2 separate regions of the Homo sapiens genome follow, and region 2 is linked to region 1. The links come from fine-mapping of genetic effects on gene expression. A gene starts in region 1. The other region holds a variant in brackets. All regions are shown on one strand. Distances are from middle to middle. Region 1 holds the start of PWWP3A (PWWP domain containing 3A, DNA repair factor). Region 2 overlaps NDUFS7 (NADH:ubiquinone oxidoreductase core subunit S7).

The links.
Region 2: its variant is fine-mapped to the expression of PWWP3A in whole blood (TOPMed, PIP above 0.99).

The regions. Positions count from the first base shown.
Region 1 is chr19:1,350,091-1,361,040 of GRCh38, reverse strand. PWWP3A (PWWP domain containing 3A, DNA repair factor) reads right to left here and starts at 6,082. Exons shown (of 14, transcript NM_001369789.1): 1 at 5,906-6,082; 2 at 4,592-4,717; 3 at 3,947-4,032; 4 at 2,577-2,647; 5 at 9-905. The coding sequence starts at 4,648. RefSeq lists silencers at 5,874-5,943, 6,004-6,293, 6,178-6,338, 6,324-6,423 and an enhancer at 5,396-6,281.
Region 2 is chr19:1,390,227-1,400,391 of GRCh38, reverse strand. NDUFS7 (NADH:ubiquinone oxidoreductase core subunit S7) reads right to left here. Exons shown (of 8, transcript NM_024407.5): 5 at 9,342-9,521; 6 at 9,227-9,273; 7 at 7,062-7,150; 8 at 4,808-5,001. The coding sequence ends at 4,904. GAMT (guanidinoacetate N-methyltransferase) reads left to right here. Exons shown (of 6, transcript NM_000156.6): 2 at 454-599; 3 at 805-868; 4 at 1,197-1,264; 5 at 1,366-1,476; 6 at 2,893-3,366. The coding sequence ends at 3,033. Among named protein-coding and RNA genes, the nearest start is that of GAMT, 6.2 kb to the left of the region's middle. RefSeq lists enhancers at 3,741-3,790, 3,891-3,940. The variant C/T (reference allele first, on the strand shown) is at 3,044.

The sequences.
Region 1 (10,950 bases):
ACTTTTACCTTTCTCCAGCTTCTGGGAATCCGGGCAAGGAAGACATCTGGTTGCATCCGCAGAGGCGTGGGAGGGAGGCGGGCCCAGCCTGGCGGTGCTGCGCGGGGTCACAGACTCTCTGGGCCCTGGCCCCGGCCCGGGGGATGGTGCGGCCCCTGCTGCCATGGGCTCCAGCTGCACGGCAGGCGGCCTTTGGCTGCCATCCAGGCGCGGCCTCTTTTTCGCAGGGCATTCTCCAGGCTCTGAGCAGGCCGAGGGCTCAGGGGCTGGGGGCGCAGTGAGGCTGCCCAACGGCAGACCGGGGTCGTGTCCCTCAGCGTTGGCACAGGGATCGTCCTCCCTGACCCCGGAGGGCAAGGACGGGGCTGCCCAGCTGCCTCCTTTGCTCCCCATGTCTCTCTCCGTGTCGTCCTCTGAAAGGGAAGATCCATTCAGGCACAAGCTAGCCTTCTGCGCTGAGTTTCCTCCCCTCTTACTTGCAAGAGTCCAATTTTTGTGGTGGATTCTGGACCCACTCTCATCTTGGGCACCACCTCCAGCTGGGAGGACCAACGGGCCTCTTGGGTTTTCACTTTTCCTGAGCCCCTTCTTGTGGTCCACTTTGCACTCGGGGTCCTTTTCACAAGTGAACGAACTTGACAGGCTTTGTTGCACACATGGCCTCCTCCTGTGAGGTCTGGAACTGCCCAACACGTCTCCGCGGGGAAGAGATGAGGAGTTCGAATCACAGGGCGAGGAGACATGCTCCATGGGCTTCCCTCGCAGAGACCGGTCAGCTCTACCTGTCCCTGCAGAGCTTTCTTGACTCCAAATCGAGCCCTCGCTCAGAACGTCCAGAGCCACGCGAAGCGACCGTCTGTAGGCCAGTTCTTCCAGGGGTGCCGCAGGAACCTCATTCTGTGAGGCTGCAAGGACCGAACATACACAATGCCGGTTACGTTCACTGCACAGGCACTGCGGTCACGGCATCGCTTTAGAAGCTCGCTTGTCTCATTCTGACGGCTAGTTTCATACCTAAATCACTGAAGGGGAGGACTAACATTTCTCACCTACATTTTCCCAAAAAGGAGACGAGGCTACAGAACGACAGCTATTCATTCCGGGATTCGAGGCTTCATTTTTTTAAAAACCAAATTTATTGACCTTAACCTGATTGGCTAAAAAGATAAATTCCTCCAAGTTACAAAACAATACCGTGAGCAAAATGTATTCAAATGTTTTGCAAATCCTCTCTCAGCCTTACAATTTCAAATTCAATCAGGGTCAATAAAAACCAATGCCAACTAAATAAAGAACTCTGCTGGCAACGTATTCTTGGTTGGTGCAGGGGTTGGTGGTAGCAAGGAAAAGGAGATTTAAAAGACTCATTGTGGGCTGGTAAATTTTCAATACTTCTTTGCAAGGGCATTTCAAAGCCAGCAAAGAGCATCGTGGGCCTCTGGTTTCCAGCCCAACCTCCCTGCTGCAGCACTTTTATTTATTCATTCCGACATATAGATACGGCGCTATTTATTTGAACAAGATGATGGATGTAATATCACAACTCAGCGGGCATAATGCCTCAATCAGAACAGTATTCTCCCCTTTGAATATTAAAGGCGCCCACAAACAACCAGCCCCCCAACACAATCTGCGCCAACAAGGACGACGCCATCCAAGATGATGGTCAGCCCGGCCTAAGTTATGCAGAGATGGATCCTGCTTTAAACAAGAGCTGTTTTTCGGAAGACACAGGAAAATAGACCTGATTTTATAAACATCATTGGAAGGAATTCCGGTCCATCTTTTCACAAGAGAAACAATTATTTGCAAATGGGATAAACAGTTCCACTTTGAGAAGGAAGGCTGGCAGGTTTGGGTTTGCACAACTGTGGCTAGGGGGCAGGCAGTCACCAGTGCTCCTCACTTGTCATGTATGTGCATGACCAGTCCCCGGCTGGACTCAGGCAAAGCTTTTCTCACCCACAGTGTGCAAAGGAGGTGGGTGCTAAACTGAAGGCCTGGGAGAAAGCGCACCCGGATGGATGGGAAGCCGAGAGCTCCACTTCCGACCTGCCTCGTGCCCCCCATGACAGTGCCTCAAACAATGGGTGCCACCAACCCCAGTGCCAGGCCACCCGTTCTCTCCCTTGGGCTCTGCTCTGGAATTTTAAACACACAACCAACTGCTTCTCAAACCTTGGGCTGAGACCAGACTGGCCAGGCAGCGACAGTACCACAGCAAATCTTACTATAGGAAGAGGAAAGGAAAAAGGAGGACCTCCCCCCTTATGGCAGCAAAGTCCTTCCTCGTCTTGTGTACTGGAGGCCACGGGGGTACGAGATGACCTTGATGCTCACCACTGACCATTCTGGGCGTCAAGAATAGGAGTGGTTCTAGGGGCAAATTCTGGAAAGGTTTAAGAAAGCGGATCCATTTTTCCTTCTCCTTCAGCTCAGGGGATTCGCGTTCCCTTGTATGAAGAAAAACATGGTGAACAGGGTGAATTTTTACCCAGAAAGCTGAGCCTTCACATTCTCCCAAATGACCTCTTATTTTATGAAAACCTAGTGGCCACTTAAAAATACGCTCTTACCTAACGAGGAAGCAATGGCTTCAATTTGAGACTTCTCTAGGATCTCAACTTCAGTGCTTTTCACCTTAATTCTGCAGAGACAAAATCGACGTTACACACCACCAGCCAACGCCGCCAAGACATTTTCAAACATGTTTTCCTTTAGATAACAAAAGAATTATTTTCATTTTCCTCCTCAACCTTCCACTTAAACCAAAAGTCACAGCCAACTAGGAATTCATCTGCCTGAGGTTACAGGCAGCAAGAACCCTGGTGAATGGTTTTTTTTTTTTTTTCCTTTTAAGACAGAAAAGGTTGGCTGGATTTAAAAGCAAAAATGAATTCAAATTGTGACTTTTATGAAGCAAATCCTACTTTCAACTGCACAAATCACTCCTTTGTTAGATTTTCAGAGTAGATGGTAATGTCACTAAAAGCTGTTTACAGCCCAGCAGGTGTGTTTTGGTTTAAAAGGATGTGCTTTCCTTTTAAACTCGAGTATTCAATTACCTTCCCAGCCGCAGGGAAAGTGTGAGCTAGGGACCAAGCGAGCTTCAGAGGCAGCTCTGAAGATGCAGGCAGGAGGGAGTGGGGCAGGGGGAGCTCCACAAGGAAGAGCAACAGGGGAGCCAATGCCTTGGACTACGCGGGATCAGTCTCCTTGCTCTCTTCAGAACTGGGAATTCTCACGACAGATGCACCCTCGCCAATCACGCAGGACTGACCGGGGCGTCGGAATCGCCGTCATTCTAGATGATCTACACCTTCCCGGTGCCAGACGCGCCCTCGCCACAATCACGCAGGACTGACTGGGGCGTCGGAATTGCTGTCATTCTAGACAATCTACACCTTTCCCAGTGCCAGACACTCACGGAGCAGAACAATGTGCCGCCTGGTCATCAGTTATTTGCCTTTTGAACGTTAAACGCTGGTTTAGAGTGACAGGCTCAAAAACCAAATATTTCAAAATTGATGGGCCTGTCACAGACGTTTCTGAAAAAAGACACACAGATCTCTGGGAAGGAAACATCCCTATTTTCCTGGCATGGCACTGATTAAGAAACAGTCAAAAAAAAAAAAAAAAAAGGAAATATCCCTATTTTAACCACAAATAGGGTCTACCCTGAGTATAATTTACATGTATTCAGTGTTTGTACCAATCTCTCCATAGATCTCACAGAATGCCTCGTTTGGATCTTCAGCTTCCAAACTGACATAAAATCAAACTAGTTGCTTTCTCATGAGGTTATTATGAGCATTAATGAATTACACAAATGGTGAATAAGCCCATTAAGAGTGGGCTGGGCTTCAACTGTTTTGGGGGAGTAGGGGATTGAAGTATCAGAAATCTACACGGGAAAAAACAGTATTAAAACAACACAACACTTAACTTTTCCTCTAGAGAGAGGATTTGCACAGCTAGAAAATATTCCTTTCTTCTCTTATTTTTTGTTGAAGTCGCGGTTCGGGCCAAAACCTACATTTAAAACAAAAGAAAATCCTTGTTATTACAACAGCTGACAGTGAGAAACAGTGGCAAACTTTAGCACAAATGCAGCAGGTAATCCTGAAGGCCTATAACCATGGGATTTCAGATATTTGGTCCAATCCCCATTGTTTCACAGATGGGGAAACTGAGGCATGAGAGGCCAGTGGCAGACAAAGACAAGGACCTGGGCTTTTGCATTGCAGCTGAGCACTGTCTACTGAATTGCTGGAAAGCATTCCCTGAACACGACCATAATTTACTATCACAGGGCTGCTTGCCAGATCTTTCCTTGAGTTACAGCCTTACATGCCTTTTTACAGCTGATTCTTTTTTTTTTTTTAGTGTGAAAAAAAAAAGACATTTCTGGAAGTGTAACCTTGGAAGCACTAGACCAAAACCCCATTAAATGGGGAACGAGAATCAGTGCCAACCGTGTTCTGGCTCAATTATTTCACTGAAGCAAATCCTAGGTATCTCCTGATCAAGATTTTACTTGTCACCCGAAAGTCATTTCTAAGTCCTGAAGTTACAGAATAATGGCTGTCACCTTCGCAGGCCATAATCGCTTTTCCCATCGGCAGAGGACATACTTGGCATCCGCCATCATTTACACTCATGTGGCAAGTGGCAATGATTTGGCACAACGTACTCCCAGGTCTCACGCCAATGTGTCCTGGAACGAAATTTGCACGGTGGTTTATACAACTGTTTGCTGGCGATGTTAACGCAGACACAGCCCTCAGGGGCAAAGGTTAGCTCGACTTAGCCTCAAGTAGATGGTTTAATTCCACAATCTTGCATTGAGATGCTCAATGCCAAAAAGCAGACTGACAAACAGAAACGACGGGGCTCGGTATCCAGGGAGGCGCCTGCATTTTTTCATAAATAAAATACAGCACAGTCCCTCCCAAAGGTTCTATCTAGATCAGTTTTAAAAGGCTCCTGAATAAATCATCTCCGTGCGGAAGACCTGCCTCCGACCTCGGCAGGAGAGGCATTTTACACAATCAAAGCTCACAACCCTCCCCAATTTGGGGAGTTAACAGTTGACCACAGCACACACACAAAAATAAGAGCGGAAAAACGACTGCTCTTTTGGCTGCCATGTCCCTGAAAGAACGGGGACAGCTGCAGACCGTTCACAGCATCAATGGGAAGGACTGGCTTGGCTGTTGACAGAAATGAAAAGGAGGTTTGGGGGTGGGGGTGGAATTTAGCAACAACGGAGGGGGGCGTCCCCGCAGCAGGGAAGAGGAGGTTCCCAGCAGAGGTAGGGGTGGCGTTTCCAGCAAGAGAGGGGATCACAGCAGCAGCAGAAGTAGGGGTCCAGGCAGCAGGGACAAGATTTCATGGCGGAGGAAGGGTTGCGGCTTGCAGGAACGGGGGATTCAGGCAACAGAGAAGGGGGTCACAGCAGAAGCGGGGGGGCTCAGGGAGCAAGAACGAGGGCTCACGGAGGAGGTGGAGCGGAGGGTCCAGGTGGCAGGGATGGGGGATTTCACGGTTGGGGGTGGGGAATCCAGGGAAGCAGATGGGGGTCCAGGCAAGAGATGGGGTTCACGGCAGACGTGAGGGGGATCCAGGGAAGGAGATAGGGGTCCAGGCAGCAAGGATGGGGGAGCGGGTCCAAGCAAGAGATGGGGTCCGGGCGGCAGGGACGGGAAAAGGAGTCCAGGCAAAGTGAGGGGCCCACGGCGCCAGGGGCGGAAAAGGGGGTCCGGGCAGAGTGGGGGACCCACGGCGGTAGGGACCGGGCGCTCCCGGAGGAGTCTCTAGGCCGGGGCCCCCCCTCCCCCCAGGCCCGGCCTCCTCGCCTCAGCCCCGCCCGGCGGAACCGAGGGGACGCATCCCGCGGGCTCACCGGGCCCCCGGCTTTCCCCAGCGCGGCGCCCCAAGCCCGGGCAAGGAGGCCGCAGCGGCCGCAACAGCGGAGGACCCGCCCGCCAACCGCTGCCGTCCGCGCCGCCCGCGCTCACCGCCTCCGCCACCGCCGCCGCCGCCGCCGCCGCCGCTCCCCGCGGGGCCGGGGGCGGGGCTTGCCTCGCGGCGGCGCCAAGCTCCGCCCCCTTCCGCCCGCTGCCCAATGGGACGCGCGCGCTCCCAAGGAGCGCCGGCCTCGCCCTCTCCGGCGTCCACGGCCGCGCGCCGGCCCCGCCCCTTCCGCCGCGCGTCTACCCCTTTTTCCCGGGAGTGCTGCCTGAGGAGACCGGTTGGCGGGGCATGTGTGGCCGCTCCCGGGCGCCGCCCTCCCGCGCTCCCGGCCCTTTGTCCTGCAGTCAGACCCCGGACACCGCCCTCGCGGGTCTCGGTGGGAAAACAGGCTCCCCCGCCCGCGGCGATCCCTGAGAGAACCTTCCAGAACTTTCGAGAATCTTCCAGGTCCTACGGCACCTCCCAGCCCGGGAGCTGCGCGCCACGGACCCAATTCCAGCAGATCCCAACCGATCCCAAAGCCAGGCATCCCCGCAAAGGCGTCATAAGCTTCTGAACTAGAGCAGGACCCACCTTGGGAGGGTCCCAAGACCCCGGGGGGCACCGGAAACAGCCGCGGGTGGCGGGAGCCCCGGAGCGGTCGCTCCATCAGTGTCAGGCCTTTCCCTGAGCGGTTTTTGATTTTTTTTCAGACGGAGTCTCGCTCTGTCACCCAGGCTGGAGTGCAGTGGCGCGAGCTCAGCTCACTGCAGCCTCCTCCTGCTGGGATTACAGGTGCGCGCCACCCCACCCGGCTAATTTTTGTATTTTTAGTAGAGAATACTAAATGTTGATCAGGCTGCTCTCAAGCTCCTGACCTCAGGTGATCGGCCTGCCTCGGCCTCCCAAAGTATTGGGATTACAGGCCTGAGCCACCTCGCCAGCCCCCACAGTTCTTTAAAAGCAAAGGAGGCCGAATTGGCAGATCCTTTAAGCCCAAGGATTGGAGACCAGCCTGGGCAACATGGCGAGACCCCATCTCTATAAAAAAGATACAGGCTCACTCCTGTAATCCCAGCAGGAGGCCGAGGCGGGCAGATCACATGAGGTCAGGAGATCGAGACCAGCATTGCCAACATGGTGAAACCCCGTCTTTACTACAAATAGAAAAATTAGCCGGGCGTGGTGGCGATGCCTGTAATCCCAACTATTCAGGAGGCTGAGGCAGGAGAATCGCTTGAACCCGGGAGGCGGAACTTGCAGTAAGGGGAGATCGCGCCACTGCACTCCAGCCTGGGCAACAGAGTGGGACTTCGTCTCAAAAAAGGAAAAAATTAAAAGACTTACAGCAGCATTCGTCACGCACTGGCCCCGACTCTTCAAGGGGAAGGGGCGACAGCAAAGCCGGCTCTAACTTCTTTTTCCTTCTCACATTTGCGGGAATAGAAGGTTTGTGTCTTCGGTCGATCCCAGCAACCTCAGCGACTGATTTTTTTTCCTTTATCAAGTTGAGAATGTTCACCTTTCACTTGTTTTTTATTTTTATTTACATTTTTGAGTCGAAGTTTGGCTCTGTGGCCCAGGCTGGAGTGCAGCGGCCCAGTCATAGCTCACTGCAGCCTCAACCTCCCAGGCTCAAATGATCCTTCCACCTTAGCCTCCGGAGTAGCTGGGACCACAGTGCGCACCACCATGGCTGGCTAAGATTTTTATTTTTTGTAGAGAGAGGGTCTTGCTATGCTGGCCAGGCTGGTTTCGACCTTTTGGGCTCAAGTGATCCTCCCACCTCGGCTCCCCAAAGTGCTGGGATCACAGGTAGGATCCACCTTGCTCAGCCGTCTCAGTTTGTCTATAAAATGGGGGTGGTGGTCTGTGGGTGGTTGGCAAGAACTATGTCTCTGATATCCTCTCACGTTAAATCTGAGCTGGCGGTGGCTCAGGCCTGTAATCCCAGCACTTTGGGAGGTCAAGGCAGACATATCGCCTGAGGTCAGGAGTTCGAGACCAGCCTGGCCAATATAGAGAAACCCCCATCGCTACTAAAAATACAAAAATTGGCTGAGCGTGGTAGTGTGCACCTGTAATCCCAGCTATTTGGGAGGCTGAGGCAAGAAAATCTCTTGAACCCAGGAGGCGGAGGTTGCAGTGAGCTGAGATCGCGTCAGTGTACTCCAATGTGGGTGACAGAGCAAGACTGACTCTGTCTCAAAAAGAAAAAAGAAAAAATCCTGGGCTGGCGTGTGACCTGCTTCAGCCCAGGGAATACAGCAGAAGGGGTGCTGTGCCAGATCCAAGCCTCTGCCTCAGGAGGAGTGGGGCCCAGTGCGGTGGCTCCCGCCTGTGCTTTGGGAGGTGCTTTGGGAGGCTGAGATGGGAGGATCACATGAGCCCAGGAGTTGGAGACAGGCCTGGGCAACATAGTGAGACCCTGCCTGTACAAAAACAAAAAAGAATTAGCCAGGCATGGTGATGCACACCTGTAGTCCCAGCTACCCAGGAGGCTGAGGCAGGAGGATTGCGTGAGTCTGGGAGGTCGAGGCTGCAGTGAACCGTGATTGCACCACTGCACTCCACATGACAAAGCAAGACCCTGTCTCAAAAACAAAACAAAACAAAACACAGCGTGGCAACAGCTCACGCCTGTAATCCCAACACTTTGGGAGGCCAAGATGGGAGGATTCCTTGAGCCCAGGAGTTCAAAGCTCCTATGAGCTCAAATGAGGTATATTTTTTTAATTTGTTTTAGAGACAGAGTCTTGCTCTTGTTGCCCAGGCTGGAGTGCACTGGTGCAATCTCGGCTCGCTGCAACCTATACCTCCCAGGTTCAAGCCATTCTCCTGCCTCAGCCTCCCCAGTAGCTGGGATTACAGGCACACGCCACCACACCCGCCTACTTTTTGTATTTTTAGTAGAGACGGTTTCACCATGTTGGCCAGGCTGGTCTCGAACTCCTGACCTCATAATCCACCCACCTCGACCTCCCAAAAACGCTAGGATGACAGGCGTGAGCCACCGTGCCTGGCCTCTGGCTCTGGTATTAAATAAATTAATGCTTTTAAAGTACTTGTGCCAGTGGTGAAATGTTAGGTCTTATTTTATTAAATGTCTTCTCCATTCGTCTGTGAGTTCCCTGAGTCCTGTTTTCTTCACCATTGTAAGCCCAGTCCGTGTCACCGAGCGCTCACTCAAATTTTGTTTAAAGAATGAATTTCTCTCCTAAACCATAGAGATTCACAGTTGCAATAAAGCGGCTGCTTCTAAGGCAGCACAAAGGCCTGGCAGGTCGATGCAAGAACGTCCTTTCACAGGCTTCTTCCGGCTCCACGTCAGTTATGGCTTTAATTAAAACGTTTCCCCTTCTGCGGGAAATGTATCATACACAATTCCCTCTGCTACTCAAGGCGTTGTAAGACAACGGTCGCTATCGTATTTTTATTAACCAGACCGCTATTGTGAGACATTTCAGCGATTCCTGATTTTTCCATGATTTAAATAAGGCCGCAGAAAGCAACTCTCCTATGTAAATCTTGGTGCACCTCTGATTATATCCTTATGATAAATCCCTGGAGGCGGAAATTGCTGGGTCTGAGGGTCTGGACATCCTCAAGGCGTTTGACAGATGACGTCAAGTTGCTTTTCAGAAAGGTACCAATTCACATTGGCGGCAGCCCCGCATTACCACGGCCCATCTAACACCCTGCACGAGGGCCGGGCGTGATTATTTCTCTCATCTTTGTTAATCTGATGATGGGTGAAAAATGTATTAAGTTTGATACTGAACCATGAACTAAATCAAAGATTAAAACACACAGACACACACCTAGTGTTCCAGCCTGAACCAGAACTGAATCTATATTTTCTAAAGTGATTGAACTGTAACATCAAAATAGCCTCTGAACTGAAACTCAATCAGTGTTCCAACCCATTCAAGTCCCTAATTAGGCCATAAGGGGACCACACTGGAAACCTTGACCAGACCTTGACCTTGTTAACACGGAGCTACGACTGCCAGCTTTGACGGGGCCCCACTGCCAAGGAGCTTTACAGATGTCCAATTACCAGCCCCCTTCACACAAGCCAGGTTTTTACATAGGAAATTCAGAACACAAGAGAGAGGGCTGTCACTGGTGTTTCTGGAGACCCAGGGGCTCCACGGAAGTCAGGATTGTCTTGGGGAGACCAGGATGACTTGAGCCCAGAAGGTCGAGGCTGCAGTGAGCCGATATCGCTCCACTGCACTCAGGCATGGGCTATACAGGGAGACCCTGTTGCTACAAAAAAAAAAAAAAAAAAAAGGCCAGCCGGGTGCGGTGGCTCACGCCTGTAATTCCAGCACTTTGGGAGGCCAAGGTGGGCGGATCACGAGGTCAGGAGTTCAAGACCAGCCTGGCCAACATGGTGAAACCTCGTCTCTACTAAAAATACAAAAATTAGCCAGGCGTGGTGGCAGGTGCCTGTAATCCTAGCTGCTTGGGAGGCTGAGGCAGGAGAATTGTTTGAATCCAGGAGGCAGAGATTGCAGCGAGCCGAGATGGTGCCACTACACTCCAGCCTGGGCAGCAGAATGAGACCTCAACTCAAAAAAAAAAAAAAGAAAAAAGAAAAGTGGCTGGGCACAGTGGCTCACATCTGTAATCCCAGCACTTTGGGAGGCTGAGGCGGTGGATCACCTGAGGTCAGGAGTTTGAGACCAGCCTGACTAACATGGTGAAACCCCCGTTTCTACTAAAAATACAAAAAAATTAGCCAGGCATGGTGGCAGGCGCTGGTAGTCCCAGCTACTGGGGAGGCTGAGGCAGGAGAATGGCGTGAACCTGGGAGGCAGAGGTTGCGGTGAGCCAAGATCACGCCACTGCACTCCAGCCTGGGCAACAGACTGAGACTCTGTCTCAAAAAAAAAAAAAAAGAAAAGAAAAAGAAATTTTCTGTAGAGACACAGTCTTGCTCTGTTGCCCAGGCTGGTCTCGAGCTTCTGACCTCAAGCGATCCTCCAC
Region 2 (10,165 bases), 40 kb before region 1:
TCTGTCCATGCTGGCCCAGGGTGCCCTCCCGTCCTGTGGCAAATGTGACTCACATAGCCTAGTTCAGCCCTGCACCCCCTCCTCCAAGCAGACCCCCAGCTCAGCCCTGCCCTACCCTGTGCCCCCTCCTCCAGGAAGCCTCCCCAGCCCTGCTCTGCACCCCCTCTTCCAGACAGCCTCCCCAGCCCTGCATCCCCTCCTCCTGGCAGCCTCTCCAGCCCTGCCCCGCACCCCCTCCTCCAGGCAGCCTCCCCAGCATTGCCCCACACCCCCTCCTCCAGGCAGCCTCTCCAGCCCTGCTCTGCACGCCCCCCTCCAGGCAGACCCCCAGCCCAGCCCTGCGCCCCCTCCTCCAGGCAGTCTCCCCAGCCCTGCCCTGCCCTGTGCCCCTCCTCCAGGCAGCCTCCTAAGCCCGCCCCACCTAGTGATGCCAGGCGCCCTGTGTCTGCCCAGGGGGCCGGGTCCTGGAGGTGGGCTTTGGCATGGCCATCGCAGCGTCAAAGGTGCAGGAGGCGCCCATTGATGAGCATTGGATCATCGAGTGCAATGACGGCGTCTTCCAGCGGCTCCGGGACTGGGCCCCACGGCAGACACACAAGGTGCCCCTCTGCCCGCAGGCCCTCCAGGACCCCCACTCCTTGGGGTGAGGGCACTGCTTCCTGGGGGTTGGGGGCCTGGGGCTGTCAGAGGTGGAGGAGGTGGTCTTCTCTCTCGGGAGTCCCCCTGGCCGCTCCCTTTCTGCAGGTGGGGAGATCCTGGGGACCTCTCTACCCTGTCCTCTCTTTTTCTTTTCCCCTCTGCAAGGTCATCCCCTTGAAAGGCCTGTGGGAGGATGTGGCACCCACCCTGCCTGACGGTCACTTTGATGGTGAGGGGTGAGGGGACGTATCACAGGGTGGGCCTCCCCAGCTCCAATGCAGCCCCTCCTTTGCTTGTGGGGGTCCCTCTGATGTGCACTGGGGGGACAGAGCCCAAGTGGGTGTGGGCCTGGCTGTGGGATGGCGGAGCACCGGGGATGGGCATGCTCACGGAGGGGCCCTGGAGGCGATCTCGGGGTTCTCAAGCCTGTGTGGGAGCCCCACCTCTACCCACGGCCCCGTCTCACTGCACCTCCACCCGCTGGGGGATGAGCCGGGTGAGGCTGGGTGAGGCGCTGAGCCCGGCCCTGACCGCGTGGGCTTCTGTTCTCCGTGCAGGGATCCTGTACGACACGTACCCACTCTCGGAGGAGACCTGGCACACACACCAGTTCAACTTCATCAAGGTGGTTCTCTCTGACTTGCTGGGATGCGGGAGGCCCTCGGGGAAGCCCCTCTGCCCACACCCCCACCTCCGTCCTGACCACTGGCCACTCCCCTTCCACAGAACCACGCCTTTCGCCTGCTGAAGCCGGGGGGCGTCCTCACCTACTGCAACCTCACCTCCTGGGGGGAGCTGATGAAGTCCAAGTACTCAGACATCACCATCATGTTTGAGGTGCGCCCACCTGAAGTTCCCCATGGGTCTCCAGGAAGTGACCTTGGATGGGGGTGGGAAGGGGCTGCTGGAGCCACCTTGCTACCTGGGGAGGGTCCCTTCCTGACCCCCTGGGTGGGCTGGACTGTGCTGGTTCATTTAGAAATCAAAGTCCTTTGCCTGGCGCAGTGGCTGCCAGGAGCAGTGGCTCAGGTCTATAATCCCAGCACTGTGGAAGGCCGAGGTGGGCAGATTGCTTGAGCCTAGGAGTTCAAGACCAGCCTGGGCTACAGAGCAAGACCTCATCTTTCCTAAAAAAAAAAAATACAAAAAACTAGCTGGGCGTGGTGGCGTGTGCCTGTACTCCCAGCTACTTGGGAGGCTGAGGTAGGAGGATTGCTTGGGCCCCAGGGGCAGAGGTTGCAGTGAGCCCAGATCGAACCACTGCACTCCAGCCTGGGTAACAGAGCCAGACCCTGTCTCAAGAAAAAAGAAAGAAAGAAAGAAAGAAAGAAAATTTAAAAAAAAAATGGAAATCAGGCTGGGCGTGGTGGCTCACACCTGTGATCCCGGCACTTCGGAAGGCCAAGGCGGGTGGATCACTTGAGCCCAGGAGTTTGAGCCTAGCCTGGCCAACATGGCAGAATCCCATCTCTACTAAAAATACAAAAGTTAGCCAGGCGTGGTGGCGGGCGCCTGTAATTCCAGCTACTCGGGAGGCTGAGGCATGAGAATCACTTGAACATGGGAGGCGGAGGTTGCTGTGAGCCGAGATTGCACCGTTGTACTCCAGCCTGGGCAACAGACCGAGACTCCATCTCAACAAAACAAAAACAAAAAAAATGGAAATCAAAGTCCCTCACCAGCTCAACAACCTCCCATGGCTCCCCAGTGCCCTGTGGTTCAGCCTAAGCCCTGCGTGTTCCCCTCCCTCCAGCTGCCTCCACCTGGCTGTCTTTGCTGGTTCAGCAGTGCTTGTCTCGCTGTTCCCTCTGCCTGGTGGAGGCGGCCTATCTGAGAAGGGCTCTATGTGGTTGCCCTGGGCTGCTGTTGTGAGAGCCGGCTGGGTGCCTGTGGCCCCTGGGGCAGCTTTTCTTCCAAAATGGGAACTAGTGGCCTGTGTTCTTTTTCTGGTGTGATTCTTTGGCTCCACCCGCCACACTGGCAAGGTCTGGAGAACTGTGGAGTAGGTGCCCGGGGGTGGCTCGAGTGTGGGGCTGGGGTTCCAGGACAGCCGGGAAGCTGCTGCCCGCACTGGGGAGCTGGAGATTCCCGTTCACACCTGGGCTTCCAGGGCTGCCCTGCCACGTGCCCACGGGAGCTGCAGCCGCCCACCCGGGCCTTGCCATCTGTAAACACTCTTCAATGAGGGGTGGGCGCCAGGGTGCACGTGACCCCCATGGCCCTCAGAGGTGACCTGGTGCCATCCCCGACCAGGAGACGCAGGTGCCCGCGCTGCTGGAGGCCGGCTTCCGGAGGGAGAACATCCGTACGGAGGTGATGGCGCTGGTCCCACCGGCCGACTGCCGCTACTACGCCTTCCCACAGATGATCACGCCCCTGGTGACCAAAGGCTGAGCCCCCACCC[C/T]GGCCCGGCCACACCCATGCCCTCCTCCGTGCCTTCCTGGCCGGGAGTCCAGGGTGTCGCACCAGCCCTGGGCTGATCCCAGCTGTGTGTCACCAGAAGCTTTCCCGGCTTCTCTGTGAGGGGTCCCACCAGCCCAGGGCTGATCCCAGCTGTGTGTCACCAGCAGCTTTCCCAGCTTCTCTGTGAGGGTCACTGCTGCCCACTGCAGGGTCCCTGAGGTGAAGTAAACGCCGGCGCTGGGCTTGGCCAGTCGGCAGTGAGCGTGCGACTGTTACTTCCAGCGGCTGCTCCCTCACCTCCCGCCCATCCCATGGACACAGGAAAAGTGGGTGACTCCCCTCCAGGTTTCTGAGCGGCCCCAGGATCCGCCCCGCCCCCCCCACTGTCTTGCCCATAGCAGACATCTCCAGCTGATGCCCGATGTCCCTTCCTCAGATGAAAGCCACCTGACCCTTTGCAGTGGGGTCAGGGAAGGGGGTAACTAGGTCAGGGTCTCAGGGGGTGGCAGCACCACGGCCGGGGTGTGGGTGGGACAAGGATCTTTGCCCACCCCAGGCAGGAACCCACTTCTCTGCCCGCCCCAGCACACCCTGAGCTCCCCTCCTCCCGCCCCAGGAGGGGCGTGGCTGCTGACAGCCCCGTTCCCCAAGCCTCCCATTTCCAGATGTGGTTTCCTCTCAGGAGGCATCGCCCCTGCTGGGCCCATTGCAGGGGCAGCCCCACCTGCCCAGCCCCAGGAACATCCCGGGTCCTGCCTGTCTGTGCCCTTGTGCCCAGCTGGTCACCCCATGCCTCCCACTTTGCCCCCTGCATCCACATGTGTGCAGCCCGCCCATCTTCCTGGGGCCGTCCTGCTCGCCCCCTCCACTGACCTCCTTGCCCTGAGAGAAGGCCGGCTCCTGTGCTCTGCACTCTGGCCCAGGGCTGCTGTTCCGCTGGCTGACGCCCTGTCCCCACCCCAGCATGTCCTGCTTCCAGGCTGCTTGACCCGGCTGGGCTGGGTGCCTCTTCCCCACCCCCGCCCCAGTCTCCCGGGCCCCATCCCAGCCTGGCCCGTCATAACTGCCGATCCCCAGAACTGTCCCTGGTGTGCAGCAGGCATGCAGGGTGGGCCTGCAGAGCGAGGTCCCAGCACCGGCGGCATCTGGCGCTGAACACAGGAAGATGGGACGTTTGCTGAATGAATGCACGTCCCTGATGAGGCCTGGACTTCGACGGATGAAGGGGCTGGTGGGGTGGAGTCAGGGTTCCCCGAAAGCCCTGGGTGGAGAGGGTCCCCAAAGTGGGGTCAGACAGCCTGTGAGGCTCACAGTCCTGCCCTGCAGCCCTTTGGTTTGGACCAGGTGCCACCTCCCCATCTCCCTGGCCCCAGCCCTCAGCTAACCAGCCCATGCCACCGCCTGGAAATGGGCCAGAGGGCAGTGGCGACCTGCCCAAGTCCACACGCAGGCCACAGGCCACACTCTGAACCCCGGGGCAGGCTCAGACGGGCTTTGCTCAGCCTGCCTTAGGGCATAGAGGGAGACTGAGTCAGGGCCCTCCCAGGAAGGATGGGTGTGCGGCCTTCCACGCTCGGGACTTTGGGCCACGATGTCCACCCCAGGGTCTTCGCAGAGCAGCGGGAAAGGACCCTGCTGGCAGGCACAGTGCCCGTCTCTGCCCCCGGCTCTGCTCCAACCGCCCCCAGCCCAAGGGCGGCACGCCGCAGGGGGTCTGTGATCCCCCCACGTCCCCGGCTCCTTTCACCCACACACCACACTGGGAGGCGGCAGCCCGAGGGCAGGTTTATTGACAACCTCACGGGACACAAGCAGGCTGGGGACAGGACGGCGACAGGCTCCGGCGGCGGCGGCGGCGGCGCTACCTGCGGTACCAGATCTGCAGCCTCCGCTCCCGCTTGATCTTCCTCTGCAGCTGCAGGATGCCGTAGAGCAGGGCCTCGGCCGTAGGTGGGCAGCCTGCAGGGACCTTGCCTCAGTCTCGCTTCCCGCAGCCGGAGCCCGCGTGACCGCGTGCACAGCGCAGCCGGCTCGGCTTTGGAAGGGTTTCCCGGGCCGGCCTCTGAAGGTGGAGGCTGACAGCCCTGGGTGGGCGCAGTGCCAGGGACTGGGAGCCGGCGCAGGGGAGGTCCCTGCAGGAAGAGTGGGGTCCTCCCCTGGGCAAGGCCCCACTGCCCTCCACCCGTGGCTCATCCCGGGCTGTCACAGGGACCTCTCGGACAAGACGCTGACCTCACTAACCCGGCCCCCGGCCCCAGCCCTCAGGACTCAATGGGGGCCAGCGCTCAGCAGACACACTTAGCAGTGGGGAGCAGGGCCCGGGGCTGCCCTGGACGGAGATGGAGGCAGGGAGGCTGGGCGGAGGGAGGGGAGGTGGCCCAGAGCCCGGGCATCCCACGAGGACCCGATGACCCTCTTTCTGAGCCCCAAGCCAGAGCTCTTTGCTGGGGATCCCCCAGTCCCGGCTGCCACGCAGGTTCAGAACAAAGGGCTTGAGCAAGAGGACGAAGCCCAGGGCCCAACGGGGACAGCAGGAGTGGAAACAGGTGAGAAAGGACAAGGCCACTGCAGGGCCTGGGAAAGGGCGGCCAGGCCCCACCTGGCAGAGCTCTGGCAAGTCCAGGCTGCTCCAAGGGAGGGAGAAGCACAGTCCGCAGGGAGGGAGCAGCACAGTCCGCAGGGAGGGAGGGAGGAGCGAGGTCCCCAGGGAGGGAGGAGCGCGGTCCGCTGGGAGGGAGGGGCGCGGTCCCCAGGGAGGGCCGAGCGCGGTCCGCAGGGAGGGAGGAGCGCGGTCCCCAGGGAGGGAGGAGCGCGGTCCGCAGGGAGGGAGGGAGGAGCACGGTCCCCAAGGAGGGAGGAGCGCAGTCCCCAGACAGGGAGCACAGTCCGCAGGGAGGGAGGAGCGCGGTCCCCAGGGAGGGAGGAGCTCAGTCTGCAAGGAGGGAGGAGTACAGTCCACACTCGCAACTTGCCCCATTGGTCTGCACTGCAGGGGAAGACGCCAGGGGCATGGGCAGAGCTCCTGACCCCAGGATGGACCTCTCTGTGCTGTCAAGTCACAGGGAGGCCCAGGCTGCCCTCTCCACTGCCCCCGGGGTGACCTGAACCGTGCAGAACGCTGAACAAATCAACGCCCTTTCCAGGGAAGCGGAATCCAAAGTCAGAGCCTGTTCCTCCACTTTTGAGAGGCACCAGGATGTGCCTCTCGCTTGCCCAAACCCCCAGACTCGGGACTCAGGGCTGGGCTCTCTGCGCATGAGCTAATGCCGCACGCAGCACAGGGTGGCCAAGAACAGGACTCTGTCCCCTGTCCCACATGAGCGCCACCTCCAAGCCTGCCTACCGTGGACCACTGTCAAGGTGAACGCCCGGGGGGATGGCCCTCGTGGGACCACGTGAGGTGCAAGAGTCCCACGGGATCACCAGATATAAAGAATGTTCCCGGTGCGATGTGAATTTCAGGTATGCAGCCAATGCTCTTTTTAGTGTCAGTATAGCCCAAATATTGTTGGGATATACTCGTACTAAACAATTACTACTAACAGTTTTCCTGATGGTCAAATTCACCCTAACCTCACAGTCAAACTAAGCCTCCCACGTTTTCATTTGCCAAATCCGGCCACCCCGGGTCCCAGGGAGTCCTGCGTGCCCTTCTGTAAGGCTGAGGGCGCGGGACAGTGTCCTTGGCCCCCAGGAACCTTCTCGCTTGGTATTTCTAACTGCAGGTCTTTGGTTTGTGCCAGGTAGGACCATATGAAACTGCTGTAAACCAGGCGTGTGTCAGGAATTCCACTCAGCTTCCCCTGCTCCCTCTGATCCCTCTGATGCCTGAATACATCGCCGACTTCTCACAGGGGACAGGCTCCACTAAGAGGCAGCGCTCCGAGTCGGCCCATCCATAGGATGGGGGAGCCCGCCGTCTGCTGGGGGTGTGGGACTCCCTCACAGGGGCCGCCGGGCTCCGTGTGGCGCTGGCCCTGTCTCCAGCTCCCTCGTGGGCGGTGCGGTCCCGGCCCTACCTGGGATGTAGATGTCCACGGGCACGATGCGGTCGCAGCCCCTCACCACCGAGTAGGAATAGTGGTAGTAGCCTCCTCCGTTGGCGCAGCTGTTGGGGAGGCACCGTGAGGGGAGTGTGCCGAAGACCCGCCTGCCCACCCTCCCTCCACGAGGCCTCGCCCCATCCCCACCCGCCTTCAACTGCAGGCCAGGCACCTACGAGGCTGGAACTTGTCACGGAGAAGCAATGAGCAAACACGCACAGGCTCCCAGAGCCTCTGTGGGACCAGTGGGGCGCAAGCTCACACGTGGCTGATAACTCGGGGAAAAGTGCTCCCCTCCCGAGGGGGCTCCTGACCACCGATTCCCGGGGCTGGGATGTGTCAGATCACATGTGTCAACAAAAAGCCACTTCAGACAGCCACAGTGCCAACACCCAGCCCCTGTCTATGGGGCGGCTGAGCCTCACCCTCGCCTGATTCCGGCTCTGTCAGTGAGGCGCTGGGGTCCACCCGGGGCAGGGAGCTGGAAACCCCAGGAGACCACACAGACTCCACTCCCAGCACTGCTTCCCACAGCCGTAAAAATGGACATACCCTGAATGCCCAGCAGTGGGAGACGGTTATGAAAACTCTGGAATATTCTAATTAACTGTTTAGAATTAGATTAGTAATATGTCCACACAGTGGGATATTATTCAGCCAAGAAAAGGCACGAGGCTCGGACACAGGCCACAGCACGGATGCACCTTGAGGACGTCGCGCTCAGTGAGAGACGCCGGACACAGAAGGCCATGCGGCGTGTGATCCTGTTTCTGTGAAATGTCCAGGACGGGCCCATCCACAGAGACAGGGAGGGGAGGTGTGGGCACCGGGGCTCGGAAGGGGATGCAGAGTGACTGCTGATGGGGACAGCATTTCATTTGGGGGTGATGAGAATGTTCTGGAATTAGAGGTGGTGGCCTAAAAACCACTGAACTGCTCGCTTTAAAAGGGTAAACTTATCAAGACCTGATCTCTACAGAAATTTTAAAAAGTAGGCACAGTGGAGTACATCTGTAATCCCAGCACTCTGAGAGGCTAAGGTTGGGGGACCGCTTGAGCCCAGGAGGTCAAGGCTGCAGTGAGCTATGACTGCACCACTGCACTCCAGCCTGGGCAACTCAGTGAGACTCTGTCTCTAAAAAATAAAAATAATAAATATTGGCCAGGCATGGTGGCTCATGCCTGTAATCCCAGAACTTTGGGAGGCTGAGGTGGGTGGATCACGAGATCAGGAGATCGAGACCATCCTAGCCAACATGGTGAAACCTCTTCTTTACTAAAAATACAAAAATTGGCCAGGTGTGGTGGCAGGTGCCTGTAATCCCAGCTACTCGGGAGGCTGAGGCAGGAGAATCGCTTGAACCTGGGAGGCGGAGGTTGTAGTGGGCTGAGATCGTGCCACTGCACTCCAGCCTGGGCGACAGAGCTAGACTCCATCTTTAAGTAAATAAATAAATATTTTAAAATGTTAAGAGACTAAATACCTTTCAATGTTACGGGGAAATGACTAAAAAATGAGGGCAAGGCCAGGCGTGGTGGCTTATGCCTATAATCCCAGCACTTTGGGAGGCCGAGGCAGGCGGATCACCTGAGGGAGTTCAAGACCAGCCTGGCCAACATGGTAAAACCCCGTCTCTACTAAAAATACAAAAATTAGCTGGGTGTGGTGGTGCATGCCTGTAATCCCAGCTACTTGGGAGGCTGAGGCAGGAAAATTGCTTGAACCTGGGAGGCGGAGGTTGCAGTGAGCCGAGATGGTTCCACCGCACTCCAGCCTGGGTTGACAGAGCAAGACTCTGTCTCAAAAAAAAAAAAAAAAAGAAAAAAAACTAATGGCAAGTGAGAAGGCTGAGATTATAAAACTATCTACAGCACCTGTCATCACTTATGTGTGAGTAAAGCAGAGAACTGGGCGGAATGTGGGGTCTGCTGCGTGGGGGTGGATGGGAGGAATCGTTCTGGGGAGAGGCCCACCAGCGCATCTGCCTAGGGTGGAGGCACCGAGACGGCTGAAGGGCAGCGCCGGGACCACGTGGGATTTCACTGAATGTAGATGACACTTTTGATAAGCGCCATCAGGGCACGGCCAGGCCAGCACTCACGCTACGTCTGTCCCTGGAGACCCCCCGCCCTGCACTCACCTCCCCATGGAGACCACGTAGCGCGGCTCCGGCATCTGGTCGTAGACCTGGAAGAGAGGCGGGGTCCGTGCGCAGCTCACTCTGGGGGCGGCTGGGCGGCTGGGACGAGGCCTACCTTGCGAAGCGCTGGGGCCATCTTGTTGGTGAGTGTGCCGGCCACGATCATGACGTCGGACTGGCGCGGGCTGGCGCGGAAGACCACGCCAAAGCGGTCCATGTCGTAGCGGGGTGCTGCCATGTGCATCATCTCCACGGCGCAGCAGGCCAGGCCGAAGGTCATGGGCCACAGAGAACTCTGCGGAGGCCGGGCTCGGGTCAGACGCCACCCCCGGAGCCCCGCGTGGCCCAGCGTGAGACTCCACGTGGAGCACCCAGAACCCCCGACTCATGTCCCGGGGCGGCAGCCGGCAGAGGTGAGAGGCACAGCGGCTCCTGCAGGTGGCCTCCGGGCCCCAAGAGTTGTAAAGCGCGCCCCACCAGCCACATTCAAATACATAAAATAGAGAGAAACGGGTGAGATCTGTCCTCATCACATAGTTCCTCGAACCCAGTGTATCCTAAGTCCCACCATTTCAACAGGGGGCTCCAGCCACTCTCTGAGCGCGTGGGCTACAGGCGAGTAGTAGCGCAGGTCTAACCGGGAACTCTCTGCGTTAACTAGATCTGGGTCCACATACCAAGTGCGACGCCTCCAGGAAGCCCTCTCAGATCTCCTTGGCCACTCCCTCCCCTCTCCTCCATCCCTGTGGCTTCTCATTTCCCCCACCGTTCCCGCTCTCCCTGCACGCGGCTCTGAGACCTGGCAGGGGCCCTGCTGCATGTGTTGGCGGGTGACAGGGTCAGGCTACAGAGTGAGGCAGGGCTGCCCGGGCAGAAATGGCCAGGTCCACCTGCCCGCCAGAAGCCTGTGTTGGGACGGCCGCTGGCCATGTCTCAGGT